Linked DNA regions of Homo sapiens: region 2 is linked to region 1. A link means that fine-mapping ties the variant in region 1 to the expression of a gene that starts in the linked region. Tissue or cell type: esophagus mucosa. Region 1 holds a variant in brackets; the other region holds the start of a gene. All regions are shown on one strand. Distances are from middle to middle.

Region 1 (2,759 bases):
ACCAACTTTCATGTGTTTCCTCTCCATGTTTGGAGATAGAATGAAGCCTGGAATACTGTTACAAAATGAACAGTTTTTTGCTAGAAATCTTTAATACCAGTTTACTCAATTACAGTCAGCTTGTAGTTGGGAACCTGTAGTTAGATGATTTCTTTTTTATTTTTATTTTTTTGAGGCAGAGTCTGGCTGTTGCCCAGGCTGGAGTGCAGTGGCGCAATCTTGGCTCACTGCAACCTCCACCTCCCAAGTTCAAGTGGTTCTCCTGCTTCAGCCTCCCAAGTAGGTGGAATTACAGGCGCATGCCACCACACATGGCTCATTTTTTGTATCTTTTGGTAGAGACGGGGTTTTACCATGTTGGCCAGGATGGTCTTAAACACCTGGCCTCAAGTGATCCTCCCACCTCGGCCTCCCAAAGGGCTGGGATTACAGGCGTGAGCCACTATACCTAGCCAGTTAGCCAGATTTCTGCTGATTAAACCCAGATACAGAAGAGTTTGGAGTGTAGCTTTAGGAAAGGTGGGAAGGCAGAATGCTCCTTGGATAAGAGGCTTAATGCTATCAATATTTTTCTCAGGCTTTATACTTTTCTCAGGTATTTCTGGGTTTTTTGTCCTGACAGCAATGTCATAATACACACAGAAGAAGGGGCGTGAGGGGGATTGTTTTATTTCATTCATTTCACTATTATATACTGAGCTCCTACTATGTGACAGTCACCATGCTAGGACCTGGGGATACAGTCATGAGAAAGGTGGCTATGAGTCTTCCCTTTGTGGAGCTCATAGGCCAGCAGCAGTGGCAAACAAGTGGACCATAGCATGCCAGGGGTTCCAGGAGGGTCCCCCAGAGGGAGGGAACCAGGCTTTTCAGAAGTAAGAGGGATTTTTCTTGAGGTAGATAAACTTGGCCAGGCACGGTGGCTCATGCCTGTAATCCCAGCACTTTGGGAGGCCAAGGCAGGGCAGATCACCTGAGGTTAGGAGTTTGGGACCAGCCTGGCCAACATGGAGAAACCCCGTCTGTACTAAAAATACAAAAGTTAGCCAGGCATGCTGGTGCACGCCTGTACTCCCAGCTACTCAGGAGGCTGAGGCAGGAGAATCGCTTGAACCCAGGAGGTAGACGTTGCAGTGAGTCGAGATCATGCCACTGCACTCCAGCCTGGGTGACAGAGACTCCATCTCAAAGAAAAAAGCTTCATACTGATTTTATATACATATGATTAAAATAAAACCGCACAGTGAAAGGACTTAGGAGTCTCCATTCCTAGTCATTAAGCCTGAGATTGGCAATAAAATTTAAAGGAATTCTTGAGGGGTTTTGAGAACACAATAATCTGAAATCCCCCGAGTTTCTTGGGAATACCATTTCCCCAAGAAACATAATCGTATAAATCCAGTCTCATGGTTACTGATTGTTCTCTTACATTTTCTTTTTTTTTGTTTTTTTGAGACAGAGTCTTTTTTGAGATGGAGTCTAGCTCTGTCGCCAGGCTGGAGTGCAGTGTCGCGATCTCGGTTCACTGCAATCTCCGCTTCC[C/T]GGGTTCAAGCCATTCTCCTGCCTCAGCCTCCCGAGTAGCTGGGATTACAGTCACGCACCACCACACCCAGCTAATTTTTGTATTTTTAGTAGAGACGGTATTTTGCCATGTTGGCCAGGCTGCTCTCAATCTACTGACCTCGTGATTCACCCACCTCGGCCTCCCAAAGTGCTGTGATTAGAGGCGTGAGCCATCGCGCCCAGTCACATTTTCTTTTCATTTGTTGTTATACCAGTTGTGTTTCCTTCTTTTCTTGAGAAGTCGTCTTGCCCCACTGTCAGGTAATTTCCTTTCTTCTGGTTATGCATTGAATTGTGTCCTCACAAAGGACGCTGAAGTCCTAATCGCCAGTACCTGTGACTGTGACCTTATTTGGATCACCTTAACAGACCATCAAGTTAAGATGAGGTCATGAGGGTAGGCTTTAACCTAACATGAGATGTCGTTAAAAAAAGGGAAATTTGGATGCAGAGATGGACATGCATAGGTAAAAATGGCATAAAGACACAAGAGAACCATCTCCAAACCAAGAAAGGCCTGAACCTACCAGAGAGTAGCAGAGAGGAATGGAACAGATTCTCCCTCACAGCCCTCAGAAGGAACCGACTCTGCACTCTTTGACTTTGAATTTCTAGTCTCCAGAACTGTGAGACAGTTTCTGTTGTGTAAGCCACCCAGTCTACGATACTTTGTAATAGAAGCCCCAGAAAACTAGTACATCTTAGCTAATGCATAAGGTCCTGGTAAGCATGACAGGAGTTGTATATGTAAATACACGCAAAGGCTAGTGGCTGGTGTATTAGTCTGTTCTCACACTGCTATAAGGACATACCTGAGACTGGGTAATTTATAAAGGAAAGAGGTTTAATGGACTCACATTTCCACATGGCTGAGGAGGCCTCACAATCACGGCAGAAGGCGAAGGAGGAGCAAAGTCACCTCTTACATGGAGGCAGGCAAGAGACCATGTTCAGGAGAACTGCCCTTTATAAAACCATCAGATCTTGTGAGACTTATTCACTATCACAAGAATAGCATGGAAAAGACCCACCCCCATGATTCAGTTACCTCCCACTGGGTCCCTCCAGTAACATGTGGGGATTTGTGGGAGCTACAGTTCAAGATGAGATTTGGATGGGGACACAGCCAAACCATATCAGCTGGTACATACTTGTCATCTTATTGTAATGTAGGCTTCAGCTTGGGAGTCATCAAC
Region 2 (2,759 bases), 150 kb before region 1:
TTTGCCTGCCCATAAAAAATCATTGTTGTATCTGACATTTTTAAAGTGTACATTTTAAAGTGTCCTATCACATAATATGAACATAGGAAGAGAATGTCATGTTAAAAATTAGCAAAGTAATTGTTTCTGCACAGAATGCATTTTTCAATTTGGGCAGTTCTCCCAGAATAAAGTAAACAAGTGAAGCAACTAGCATTCTTACTAGAACAGTGACAAGGCATTTTCTTTTTAGTTTCTTTTCACTTATTAGTCTACTAGGATACTTGAATACTGTCTCTATGCTGGTGTCTAAAACCCTCAAAGGAGAGTACAATTGCAGGATAAACGAAGAGTGTCCAGGAAGAGAACTAGACAAGAAAGGAAACAGATGGTCTCTGGGCTCGGTGAGCTTGGAAGCTGTCGAAAGCAAACTCGACTGGACCCTCCAAACTCCTATTTCAGATCAATACATAAGGTTCAGCTGAGTTCGGCCTCCAGGCCCAAGAAAGCAAAAGCCAGCAACCCGGGGGCTGGTCGGCGGCTCCCTCGCCAGGGACGCCCCACAGCGAGACCATGCCTCTCCCACCTCTACCCCCGAAAACCAAAACAAAACAGAACCAAGCCCAAGCGGTGCTTGCTCGTTTCTTTTGTCTTGCTCAACGCTGACCACTTTTTTTCCGGAGAAGGTTAACGTTAAGGGAGCCCGGGGGAGCTCTCTGCGACCCCGCCAGGTGCTCCCCGAACCCCCGGCCCCATCAGAGGAATGAGGCGACCACCGAGCGGCGTTGGGCGGCCAGGTCCTCCCCGGCACCCCCGCCCCGGCTCCTGGAGGAGGGCAGGGACTGCCGGCCTGGGGCAGCCAGGGACCGACGGGACCCCCGCAGAGCCAGGCCCGAGGCCCCGGGCGCCCCCACGACCCGGCGGCCGCCCAGGGCGCCCGCCTGGGGCCTCACCCCAACCGGGGACAGGGCCGCCGAGGGCCGGGCCAAGGCCGCCCGGCTTGTCCCCGAGGCCGCCGGGGAGCGTAGGCCGCCGCCATCCCCGGCCTGCCGTGCGCCCGCAGCCCGCGGCCTTACCGCCTCCACGGCGTGCTGCAGGATGGAGGTGAACTTGGAGAACATCCTGTCCCGGGACTGCAGCAGCCTCTCCCGGGACGACCTGGAGAGCTCCTCGATCCGCCGCCGCCGCCCCTGCTGCGGCTGCCGGGGCCGCTCCAGAGTGAAGGCCGGTGCGGGGCGGGGAGGACGAGCTGAGGATCGAGGCAGGGCCTGGCCCGGCCGCTTCAGGTGTGCGCGGGCGGCTCGGCGGCTCCGGAGGGCGCCGGGACGCGGCGGGCGGCGAGGAGGGCGTTCGGCGAGGACTCGGGGCCCGGAGAAGCTCCGGCGGCGGCACCGGTTGGGACACGGTGGCAGCCCGGCTCGGGTTCCTTCCCCCCGCTCTGCCCGCCGCGGCCTGCAGGGGGCGCCGCCGCAGCCCGGGGAGGCCCGGCCAGGCCTGCCCTGCGGCGGGGCCGCTAGGCGCCGCGGGGGCGGGGGGCGCGCTGAGGCCTCGGCCTCGCGCGGGGCTGGAGGCGGCCTGTGGGCAGCCACCGCCCTCTCCCGGCTTTCTCAGGGCGCCTGGGACACCGGCTTTCTAACATTTTTACAGCTCAGCGATTCTCAAGAGTTTTGTTTCTCCAGTGGAAGTAACAGGCTGACTTTGTAGGGACACGCAGCCGTCCATATATGCGTATAGCATTCAGAGGTTCTTCCTGTAAGGACCGATTTGGAAGACTCGTTAAGAAAACAGTGTTCTTTAAGCAAACATTGGCAATGGATTTAAATGCTCAGATTTTGAAGAAATCAACGACTGCAGGTGAAATGGCTTTGCTAACTTTAAAATATATTATTATTCAACATTGAAACAGGAAATCCCACATGAGCACATGGTAAGACGGCTGGCTTAGTTTAAATAGCCCATTATAATATTTATATATAATATATAACATAATTTATTTGTGATATGGTTGATAGTGAGGTGTAGTGATTCAGAACAGCATTTTCTATTCAGTTATCAGATGATACCGGAAAACATTAGCGAGGGAAAGAATCTGAAAGGAGTCCAGTAAATGCCTAAGGCAGATAAATAGAGCTACAAGGTAAGCACTTGGGTGGAGGCTGCTTAAAATACTCCCTAACAGTGTATTAGTCAAGCCTTGAAGAAGCAGTTCAGGCTGGTAAAGTTTAGGTTGAGTTAATACAAATTATGAAAATATTTGTATCCTGAAGAAATTTGTTTTATGCTGGTATTGGCGTTTTACCAAAAGGTTCATTAAGTTCTTAAGATGAGGTGGGGAGTGAGTTTTGCACAACCAGTGCTGAAAATACGTATCTGGCCCAGGCGCGGTGGCTCACGCCTGTAATCTCAGCACTCTGGGAGGCAAAGGCGGGAGGATCACTTGAGGCCAGGAGTTCGAGACCAGCCTGGCCAACATGGTGAAACTCCGTCTCTATTAAAAATACAAAAAAAAAAAAAAAAAAAAAATTAGCCGAACGTGGTGGTGTAATGGGATTACATGCTTGTAATCCCAGCTACTTGGGAGGCTGAGGCAGGAGAATCCTTGAACTCGGGAGGCGGAAGTTGCAGTGAGCCAAGGTTGCGCCATTGCGCTCCAGCCTGGACAACAAGAGCAAAACTCCATCTCAAAAAAAAAAAAAAAAATACACACACACACACACACACACACACACACACACACACATACATGTATACACACACATACGTTTATACATACACAAACG

What was found. PIP is the estimated chance that this variant, and not a neighbour inherited with it, causes the effect.
Region 2: FHIP2A starts here. The variant in region 1 is fine-mapped to the expression of FHIP2A in esophagus mucosa (GTEx, PIP 0.97).

What each region holds. Positions count from the first base shown.
Region 1 is chr10:114,675,186-114,677,944 of GRCh38, reverse strand. It overlaps a transcript of ABLIM1 not described here. Among named protein-coding and RNA genes, the nearest start is that of ABLIM1, 18 kb to the right of the region's middle. The variant C/T (reference allele first, on the strand shown) is at 1,543.
Region 2 is chr10:114,820,420-114,823,178 of GRCh38, reverse strand. FHIP2A (FHF complex subunit HOOK interacting protein 2A) reads right to left here and starts at 1,399. Exons shown (of 17, transcript NM_020940.4): 1 at 1,056-1,399. The coding sequence starts at 1,100. It overlaps LOC124902508 (translation initiation factor IF-2-like), which reads left to right and starts at 231. Exons shown (of 2, transcript XM_047426127.1): 1 at 231-1,906. The coding sequence starts at 1,078. The coding sequence ends at 1,683. RefSeq lists silencers at 701-920, 981-1,330, 1,341-1,650 and an enhancer at 495-995.